2 separate regions of the Homo sapiens genome follow, and region 1 is linked to region 2. The links come from fine-mapping of genetic effects on gene expression. A gene starts in region 2. The other region holds a variant in brackets. All regions are shown on one strand. Distances are from middle to middle.

What was found. PIP is the estimated chance that this variant, and not a neighbour inherited with it, causes the effect.
Region 1: its variant is the best candidate, but not a certain one, in a credible set for the expression of FHOD1 in whole blood (TOPMed, PIP 0.74).

The regions. Positions count from the first base shown.
Region 1 is chr16:67,579,870-67,585,231 of GRCh38, forward strand. All of the region lies in intron 2 of CTCF (CCCTC-binding factor), which reads left to right. Among named protein-coding and RNA genes, the nearest start is that of CTCF, 20 kb to the left of the region's middle. The variant C/T (reference allele first, on the strand shown) is at 3,037.
Region 2 is chr16:67,245,188-67,250,549 of GRCh38, forward strand. It overlaps FHOD1 (formin homology 2 domain containing 1), which reads right to left and starts at 2,294. Exons shown (of 22, transcript NM_013241.3): 1 at 2,023-2,294. The coding sequence starts at 2,223. It overlaps SLC9A5 (solute carrier family 9 member A5), which reads left to right and starts at 3,792. Exons shown (of 16, transcript NM_004594.3): 1 at 3,792-4,014. The coding sequence starts at 3,828. RefSeq lists enhancers at 469-1,128, 3,529-4,030, 4,031-4,530 and silencers at 1,232-1,331, 2,232-2,601, 3,244-3,333, 3,354-3,443, 3,744-3,853.

The DNA.
Region 1 (5,362 bases), 330 kb after region 2:
GCTACTGAAAGAAGTTCAGTGTGATTAGAGGCGAGTATGTCAGGCTGGATGCAGATCTGCTGATAGGGCCCTGAAGCACTTGGTAGGCCATGTGAAAGAGTTTGGACTTTAAGAGTTTTCAGCATGGTGGTTTCAGAAGGGAAGTCTTCTTGCTGATAATGGATTTACATTTTAGAAATCCGTGGCCGCTGTGTGAAAAATGGTGGGTAATGGAGCAAGAGGGGAAGCAGGGAAACTGTTTAGAAGGCCATTGCATTGGTCCATGCAAGATGTAATGCTGTCCTGACTTAAGGTGGGATAACTGGGATTGCTGTTTGTCTAGTTTGTTAAATTATAATGATTATTTTAAATTAATTTAGAGACAGACTCTCGCTCTGTTGCCCAGGCTAGAGTGCTGTGGTGTGATCATAGCTCACTATAACCTTGAACTCCTGGCCTTAAGTGATCATCTGGCCTCAAGCTCCTGAGTAGCTAGGAGTGTAGGTGCGTATCACCAGGCCCAGCTAATTTTTTTTGTAAAGATGGGGTCTTACTGTGTTGCCCAGGCTGGCCTTCAACTCCTGGCCTCAAGCAATCCCCTCCTCCCAGGCCATCCAAGGTGTTGGGATTACAGGTGTGAGCCACCATGCCCAGCTTAGTTTTTTAATTATTTATGTATTTTATTTTTATTTTATTTATTTATGTATTTATTTATTTATTTATTATTTTTGAGACGAAGTCTCGCTCTTGTCCACCAGGCTGGAGTGCAGTGGCTCAATCTCAGCTCACTGCAGCCTCTGCTTCCCGGGTTCAAGTGATTCTCCTGCCTCGGCCTCCAGAGTAGCTGGGATTACAGGCGTGCACCACCACACTCGGCTAATTTTGTACTTTTAGTAGAGGCACCTGCCCCAACGCCTGGCCAAATTTTTTTTTTTTTTTTTTTTTTTAGTAGAGACAGGGATTCACCATGTTGGCCAGGCTGGTCTAGAACTCCTGACCTCAGGTGATCCACCCACGTCGGCCTCCCAAAGTGCTGGGATTACAGGCGTGAGCCACCGCACCAGGATTTACTTATTTTTTATTTATTTATTTATTTTTGAGATGGAATCTCGCTCTTTCGCCCACGCGGGAGTGCAGTGGCGCTATCTTGGCTCACTGCAAGCTCCACCTCCCGGGTTCACGCCATTCTCCTGCCTCAGCCTCCCGAGAAGCTGGGACTACAGGCACCCGCCACCGCACCCAGCTAATTTTTTGTGTTTTTAGTAGAGACGGGGTTTCACCGTGTTAGCCAGGATGGTCTCGATCTGCTGACCTCCTGATCCACCTGCCTCGGCCTCCCAGAGTGCTGGGATTACAGGCGTGAGCCACTGCACCTGGCCCGGCCTTACTTATTTTTAATTAGGTTGGAATCCTATTCTGCATCCTCCTTTGTAACCTTGCTGCGTGTTGTGAACGTTTTTCCTGTTAGATGATCTTTTTCTTTTTTTTTTTTTTGAGACAGTCTCACTCCGTCTCCCGTGCTGGAGTGCAGTGGCATGATCTAGGCTCACTGCTACCTCTGCCTCCTGGGGTCAAGTGATTCTTGTGCCTTAGCCTCCCAAGTAGCTGGGATTACAGACATGCTCCACTAGGCCTGGCTTATTTTATTTTATTTTTATTTTATTTATCTTTTTCAGACAGAGTCTTCCTCTGTTGTCCAGTCTGGAGTGTGGTGGCACGATCTTGGCTCGCTACAACCTCCGCCTCCCAGGTTCAAGCGATTCTCCTTCGTTAGCCTCCGGAGTAGATGGGATTACAGTCGTGCACCACCACACCCGGCTAATCATGTACTTTTAGTAGAGATGAGGTTTTATCACGTTGGCCAGGCTGGTCTAGAACTCCTGACCTCAGGTGATCCACCCACCTCGGCCTCCCAAAGTGTTGGGATTACAGACGTGAGCCATAGCACACAGCGCTAATTTTTGTGTTTTTAGTGGAGACAGCGTTTTGTCATGTTGACTGGGCTGATGTTGATCCACCTGCCTCAGCGTCCGAAAGTGCTGGGGTTACAGGTGTGAGCCACCTCACACAGCCTCTGTTAGATATCTTTTGTTGGCCGGGTGCAGTGGCTCATGCCTGTAATCCCAGCACTTTGGGAGGCCGAGGCTGGCGGATCACGAGGTCAGGAGATGGAGACCATCCTGGCTAATACGGTGAAACCCCGTCTCTACTAAAACAAAAAATTAGCTGGGTGTGGTGGTGGGCACCTGTAGTCCCAGCTACTGGGGAGGCTGAGGCAGGAGAATGGCATGAACGGAGCTTGCAGTGAGCCGAGATCGTGCCACTGCACTCCAGCCTGGGCCACAGAGCAAGACTCCGTCTCAAAAAAAAAAAAAAAAATCTTCTGTTACTTCAAATTAGTAGGAACTTTGTTGTTGGATGTTAAGTGGCATGTGTGCATGCTTTAGTTTTCTGAACTGTTCCTTTGGGCATAGCAGTCCTTGTTTGCCCTGACTTTTTGCCTCTAGTATGTTGTTTCTACCTATTCCTCATTAATTGAATTATTTCTAAAATACGAGCATTGGCCAGGCAGGGTGGCTCATGCCTGTAATCCCAGTACTTTGTGAGGCTGAGGCGAACGGATCGCTTGAGTTCAGGAGTTTAAGACCAGCTTGGGCGACATGATGAAACTCGGTCTCTACTAAAAATATAAAAATCAGCCGAATATGGTGGTGGGTGCCTGTAATCCCAGCTACTTGGGAGGCTCAGGCACAAGAATCACTTGAACCTGGGAGGCAGAGGTTGCAGTGAGCCGAGATCGCGCCACTGCACTCCATCCTGGGCAACAGAGTGAGACTCTGTGTCAAAAAAATAAATTAAATAAAATATGAACATTGACTCTGAGAGCCAAGTTTATTGTAAATTTGAGTGCATAGACTTTGAGATTTTTTTTTTAATCAAACCTTTTTTGGTCCTGTTCTTGTTTTCTAAGTGGTAGATATTTGCTGGTTTAATGACTTACAGATAGGGTGACATAGAGGTCTGTCTTAGTTAACAGCTATGTAGATTATCCTATCA[C/T]GTATATAGCTGTAAATACTCTACACATTTTTCACACACTGAACTTAAATCTCCAATTTCTTTTTTTTCTTATTTTTCTTTTTTTTTTTTTTTGAGACGGAGTTTTGCTCTGTTGCACAGGCTGGATGGAGTGCAGTGGTGCGATCTCGGCTCACTGCAACCTCCGCCTCCCAGGTTCAAGTGATTTTCCTGCCTCAACCTCCCAAGTAGCTGGGATTACAGGCACCAACTACCACGCCTGGCTAATTTTTTGTATTTTTAGTAGAGATGAGGTTTCACCATGTTGGCCATGCTGGTCTCTTAACTCCTGACCTCAAGTGATCCTCCAGCCTTGGCCTCTCAAAGTGCTAGGATTACAGGCATGAGCCATGGCGCCCAGCCTACTTCTTATTTTGAAAGAAGTAGATGATACACATTATCTTCCCCAATAAGGAAGGAGGAAATGAGTCCTAAAATGTCCTAGGTTGCTGAGGGTTTTTGAGGAAAAGAGTATATATCTAGCCAGGCGCGGTGGCTCACGCCTGTAATCCCAGCACCTTGGGAGGCTGAGGCAGGTGGATCACCTGAGGTCAAGAGTTCAAGACCAGCCTGGCCAACATGGTGAAACCCTGTCTCTACTGAAAATACAAAACTTAGCCGGGTGTAGTGGGGCATGCCTATAATCTCAGCCACTCGGGAGGCCGAGGCAGGAGAATCACTTGAACCTGGAAGGTGGAGGTTGCCGTGAGCCAAGATTGCTCCATTGCACTCCAGCCTGGGCGACAGAGTGAGTTTTGGTCTCAAAAAAAAAAAAACAAAAGAGCATATATCTTGATGCTCTGTGTGGTGAGTAGTAAGCAAGAGTATACAGTGATTAATCCTTGACTTTCGGGCAGCTTTTCTAGTTTAAAACATATCCTAATGGAGGGAGAAAAGGGCATTCTGGTAAGTTGTATTTTATGTTGTAGCATTTTTGCCTGACACAGGGATTCTGCTTTATATTTCTTGGACTGCAGATGTAAATGCTGCTCAGTAGAGTGGTGTGCATTAGCGATTAGTGGTGTGCATAGCGAAAACTAGGTTTTGGAGACTTCTGTCTGATTTCTGGGTTACAGACAAGGGGACTGCAAAGCCAGAGAACCACTCTTTGCTTCATGCTTGTGTGCAGCCTCACTGTGTGCAGTCGTTTAAAAATGTCTGCCTTCAGCTGGGCGCAGTGGCTCATGCCTGTAATCCCAGCACTTTGGAGGCCGAAGTGGGTGGATCACCTGAGGTCAGGAGTTCGAGACTAGCTGGGCATGGTGGTGGGCACCTGTAATCCCAGCTACTCGGGAGACTGAAGCAGGAGAGTTGCTTCAACTTGGGAGGTGGAGGTTGCAGTGAGCTGAGATGGTGCCATTGCGCTCCAGCCTGGATGACGAACGGAACTCCTTCTCAAAAAAAAAAAGTCTTCTTTTTTTTTTTTTTTTTTTTTGAGATGGAGTCTCGCTCTGTCACCCAGGCTGGAGTGCAGTGGCACGATCTCGGCTCACCGCAACCTCTGCCCCCCAGGTTCAAGCGATTCTCCTGCCTCAGCCTCCCTAGTAGCTGGGATTACAGGCGTGGTGGAATTTTTGTACTTTTAGTAGAGACAGGGTTTCACCATCTTGGCCAGGCTGGTCTTGAACTCCTGACCTCATGATCCACCAGCCTTGGCCTCCCAAAGTGCTGGGATTACAGGCGTGAGCCACCGCATCTGGCCAGTCTTCTTTTTTTTTTTAAACTGTAAAGTGGTGATACTGGTTCCCTTCTTACCTATAAGTATTACTCAAATTGATAACCTAATAAAACTGTAGGATATTAAAGCCAAAAGAAAATTTAAGTCATCTGTCAATCCCTTCATTTTACAGATAAGAAAACTAAGACGCAAAGTGATTCACCTAAGGTCATGGATGTAGGACAAGTGCTTATGCCTTTTTTGTTCTTCCCTAGACTGGCTCTGAATAGTCTTTGGGTTTCCCAGAATTTCCTGCTGCATTTGATTCTGTAGCTAATTATTTTATACATTCATTTTTTAAATCTCTTTTGACAGAAAAACATGCATCAATGTGTATGTCTAGAAAAACAATGTAGAGGCTGTACATTAATTGCTCTTGGGTGTAGTATGCATGTCTTTGTTTTGTTTTGTTTTTTATTTTTTAGACAGAGTTTTGCTCTTACTGCCCAGTCTGGAGTGCAGTGGCACAATCTTGGCTCACTGCAACCTCCTCCTGCCTCCTGGGTTTAAGCAGTTCTCCTGCCTCAGCCTCCCAAGTAGCTGGGACTACAGGCATGCACCATCATGCCCGGCTAATTTTTTGTATTTAGT
Region 2 (5,362 bases):
CTGTGGGGGAGGGAAGGCAGTCCTCAGGTACTCCAGGTGGGAGAACATGAAATCGGGGAGACCAGGAAGGACTGCATTGGGGATGAGGAACTTATATTCTTCACCGGAGCTCAGTAGTGTCCTCAGCTAAGGAGCAGGGAACACAGGGCAGAGCACCTGGTAGGGTTGGGTGGGGACACGGGTCCCATGAGAGGGAGATAGAAGGAGTGGTTCTGAGCCTCTTTCTTGCAGCTGACTTCCCAGGCTTGCCCCCAGCTGGGAAGAGGTGTGTCAAGGGGCTGGGCATGGTGGCTCAAGCCTTAATCCCAGCACTTTGGGAGGCTTAGGCAGGCAGATCACCTGAGGTCAGGAGTTTGAGACCAGGCTGGCCAACACGGAGAAACCCTGTCCCTACTAAAAATACAAAAATTACCTGAGTATGGTGGCGCACACCTGTAATCCCAGCTATTTGGAAGGCTGAGGCACGAGAATTGCTAGAACCCGGGAGGTGGAGGTTGCAGTGAGCCAAGATAGCCCCACTGTACTCCAGCCTGGGAGACAGAGCCAGAATCCGTCTTAAAAAAAAAAAAATCGGGGGGGTGGTGTCAGGGCTAGGTCCAATCCTTGAGTTGCAGGATGAGAGGAATACAATATATTCTCTAGTGCCCCACCCTTATTTCAGGATCCGGACTTTAGGAGCCTGGAAGCGGGAACCAGTCTTAGTTCAGCACTCCTGTCTTCCCAGCCCCCATCCTGAATGGGAGGTGGCCTCCAGCTGCACACGCTTCTTCCAGGCACACCTCAATTTGCCCCTCTGAATAGGGCAAGAGAAGCGGGGGCTGAGTCAAAACTGGCGGTGAGCAGTGTCCTGCATCCTTCCAGCCATGGCCTTGAAGCCGGGGTTCTGGCCTGGACACGTGCCACTCTCCAGGCCAATAGTCTCACCACCCCTCCCGCCAGCGCTCAGAGGCGGGGCTGGCCGCAGCGCGAGGAATGCGGGCTGGGGGCCCGGGGCACATTCCAGGGAAGACCCCAGGCCCAAGGGGCAAGTTTACGCAACTCGCCGCCCAGCTGAGGCTGGGAGCAGGGGAGGGCACCCACCCCGACTCTCTCTCCTCTTCTCCAGCACTGGAGGCGGCCGGGCTGGTGGGGAGCTTGTGGAGGTGGTAGTGCGCCTCCCAGAGTCCTGGCCCGGAAACAGCGCGCCGGAAAGGGCTGCCTGCGGGGGGCTGACGGCGGCGAGAGGGAGGGGAGAGGAGGTAGGCTGGCCATCTGGAAAAGGGCCTCTTTCCGCACTGTGCACAAGTCCGCTTCGGGGCGGCAGCAAAGTAGGGCAGGCCGGCTGTTTAAAATTAGTCCGGCCCTCCCTCTCACTTTCAGGCGCGGGCCGATGGGCGGCGAGTGTCCGGGGGTGGGGGCGGGAGCGGTGACTCAAAGGGCTTTTACACCCGTGCAGCCTCCTGCGCTCTGCGGATCCCGGGCCAGACCGCTTCGCGGGGACTCCCCTCACCCCGTGAAGTCTCTCCTCGGCCGGCACTCCCATACTCCCATTGACCTACAGGGTCAAGCCCCAATCCAGCTTCCTGACACCGCAGGAAACCTCTGCCACCTCTAGTAGTCCGCCTCGGGCCCGCCCCTCCTCGTGGTCCCGCCCCCACCTCACCTGAAGCAGGTGGAAGCTGGTCCCTCCCCAGCTCCGCCTCCAGGGTCCGCTACAGCCCAAGCGGCTACCGTCACTCTGACCAGGGAAGCCACCCTGGCAGACCGACGGCGAGTGGAACTCGAGCACCTCCCCAGGTGCGCCTAATTCGAAGGGCAGTCAGAATGGCGGAGCCAAGTTCCTGGCACCCCTCTTCAGTTTCCCCTCAACTTGAGAGGGGACTCCCCCGCAGGCGGGGCAGAGTGGACCCTGGGACCCCAGCCCAAGACTTTTCCGGAGAAGAACACTCGCTCCAGCCTCTTCCCGCGGAGCACCTCCCACCAGTTTTCATGGCGCCCACCCTGAACCCCCGATCGCCCCAACCTTTCTCCGGCCTCCCTCACCTTGAGCGGCGCTCCCAGCAGGCGGTGCACCGCGGGTATCTGCGCGCCCAAGGGCAGCGCCCCGTCCAGGCTGCAGGTGGGGGCCCGGCGCGGCTCCGGAAAGTTGGCACATGCGAAGGGGTCGGTGTCTTCCAGGTACTGCACCCTCACGGTCACCACTGATACCGGCTCTCCGTCCCCGCGGTCTTCCCCGCCCGCCATGGCTCTGCGGCCGGCTCACGCAGCGCGCCTCCGAGTCCCGGCCCCAGTGCAGCTTCTACTCAAAGCACACTGTAGCTCCGCGGTTCGGGCCCGGCCGGACCGGACGCGGCTGGAGGGGCGGGGCCAGACGGAGGCGGGGCCGAGGAAGGGGGTGGAGCCAAGATTAGTCCCCGAGTGCGCGCCAGGAGGTAACCACTGCCGGAGGCGGGGCCGCCGCTAGCCACTCACAGGGCCCAATGGGAATCCCGTTAGTTCACTGGCTAGGAGGGCGGGAAAAACCGAGCTCGCGCCCCACCTTCGAGAACGCGCAGAAGGCGGGGAGGCTTTCTTTGGTCTGGGGATAGTGAGGCTGCGTTCTCTTTGAGGGGTGTTAGGGCAGATGGGGCAGAAGTTTCTTTAGATAGTGGCCGGCCAGGTCTCTCTCAGTTGAGGGACAAGATAGCCCTCATTCCTTCCATTTGAGGGGTGAGTCCCTGTGGTTTCCTCATTTAGGGAAAGCAGTGAGAGGGGGTCCCTTCAATTTGGAGCAAGAAGTGAGAATAAATTCCACCCAGTTTGAAGGAAGAGGTGGGATCAGTTCCCTTTAGTTGTGGGAGGAAGAGGGAAGGATGCCCTTCAGTTTTCTGGGAAAAGATTGGGAGGAGTCAGTTTGAGGGGGCAGATAGAACACGTTCCCCTCAGTTTTGGAGAAAAAGTGGGATGGGTGCCCCTCAGCCTGAATGAAAAGTGGAGACGGTCCTCCTCTGTTTGGGGCGCTATGAGCCGAATGCCCCTCAGATTTGGAAAAAGTTGGGTGCATCTCGCCTAGTTTGAAGGGAATCAGTAGGCTGGGTTTTCCATAGGTTCCTGTCAGCTTCATCAAAGAGATGAGACAGTTCTCTGTAGTGTGACTGAAAGGGAGGGCCAGGTGCCCCTTGGTTTGGGAGATGAAGAACAGCCTCCCTCTTCGCCTGGCACGAGCTGGGCCAGTCTGGGCCTTAGGGTTTCTGGGACGTTGGGGGCAGCGTTGTCCGTCACTGCTTTGGGGAGCGTCCAGTGCGCGTGCGCAGCTCAGGTCCGGGTGGGGGCCGGCAGGGGGTCCTGGGCTTGGCAACGTGGGCGGAGGGCGGCCAAGCACGGTCCCCTGCGTTTTGCACCCGGCCGCGCCTTGGTCCCAGGGGGGTGCTGCTCGCCGCACAGCAGCGCTGGCCGAGGAGGAGCCGTGCCCCTCCCGTCCTGACCGCGCCCCCCGCAGACCCCCGCCCTTCCCGCTGCGGGCTGCCCCAGGGGGGCCGTGGCCGCGCACCGCTCTGGATCTGGTGGGGGCGGTTTTGGGGAGGTTTGGGGGCGCGGACTCGAAGGAGTAGGTTGTGGAACTTGGGGGAGAGCTGCACTGGGGAATTTCCGGAGCTGGGACTGATTTAGGGAGGAAAGAGGAGAGAGTCCCCGACTACGAGAGTCCGAGGCAGGGTCTCGGAGCCTGGACCTGGCTTGGGGGTATCGGAGCCGGGATTGGGGGGAGCGGGCCCCACGTGCCTGTGACGCGGGGGCGCCCGGTAGGTGGCGGCGGCGACGCGGGGCCGGCGGCCGTGCGGTGCCGGGAGGGCGGCTGGGCAGGCGGCAGGATGCTGCGCGCCGCCCTGTCCCTGCTCGCGCTGCCCCTGGCGGGGGCGGCCGAAGAGCCCACCCAGAAGCCAGAGTCCCCGGGCGAGCCTCCCCCAGGCTTAGAGCTCTTCCGCTGGCAGTGGCACGAGGTGGAGGCGCCCTACCTGGTGGCCCTGTGGATCCTGGTGGCCAGTCTGGCCAAAATCGGTGAGTGCGTGTGTGCGTGCGCCAGGCCGACCGCCAGCGGCGGACCCGCCCCCAACACCCCCACCTCCTCGGTCCTCAGATTGGGGCTGGCTTCTTGCACGGTGCTGGGACTTAGGTTTGGATTCCACAAATCCGGGCTCTCGCCCAGTTCCTGCATCGCTTCTTGTGGGTCCCAGGTCCCTGTCTTCTCCCCTGGGAGCTCTGAGGATTTGCCTTTCTGAAGGGCTGTCCCCCGCTCTCCCCAACTCCATCTGTAGGCTCCTTTGCCCTCTCCGCTCCCCTCTTCCCCTTGCAGTAGGCCCTCTTCAGTCTGGTCTCTCCCCCACCAATCCCTAGCCTCCCAGAAACCTCTGTCGCTGGTGAGGATGTGTGGGGACATTGAGGGGAGGGTGTTCTCCCAAGAACACAGGCATCCTGGTTCTGAAAAAGCAGCCTTCCCTGGAGACCATGTCCGAGTGTCCATTCCCTTGGGAAACTACACTGCCACTTTTCCTCCAGCTCTCCCCTGCTCCCCACTTAAAGCTGCTGCCTTCTTGTGCCTGTGTATGGGTACCCCCCCAACCCACGTTCAGGTCCACATTCTTCTCACTTCAGGGTATAAGAAACTTCCGTGTATCGGGGCCTTCCTGTGTGCTGTCTACCCTAGATGCTTTCATACATCCGACCTCTTCAGTCCTGACAGCATTGAAGGCTGTGCTTCAGACTTCTTTTTCCCTGAATAGAGCTGCTTTTCCTTGCATCTGCTCCTTCCTCCTCCCTTCTGAGCAGCCAGTGGTCCCTCCTCCCACCAGAGACCCTCCTCCTTCTCCCTGTTGTGCTGGCTCTGCTGTGGGGGTGACTAATTATAGCTGAGCGTTGCTACTCTCTCCCCATGGATGCTGGCACAGCCTGTACTCCAGTCTCACCAATACAGCCTTCATGGAGGAATCACCCAGAGCCTAGAATTTGCCCCTCTTCTCCCACATGGACACTGCTAGGGGGTGAGGGGGCTGGGCAGGAACAGAACTCTCCACTCTGCTGTGGCAGCCTGAGATTAATAATGGAAAGTGGAACTCAATATGCCTTCCGGGAGCGTGGTTCTGTGATGGGGCTTGGATCTCGGGGCTGGGGTTAATGCATGAAGAGATGAAGATGAAATAGGGTCCCCGAAGGAGAGAAGTGGGAGACCAAAGTAGGGACAAGTATGGAGAGATCTATGACCATGTTTACCTTAGAGGTCCAGCAGCAATGAGAGTAAGAGTAGAAAGAGCCTCAGGTTTGGAGCCAACGATTGGGTTTGCTAAGTCTGTGAGTTGCAGAAGAGTTCCTGTCTTAGGGTTTATAGCAAAAACTGTAGTTTTCCCCATAA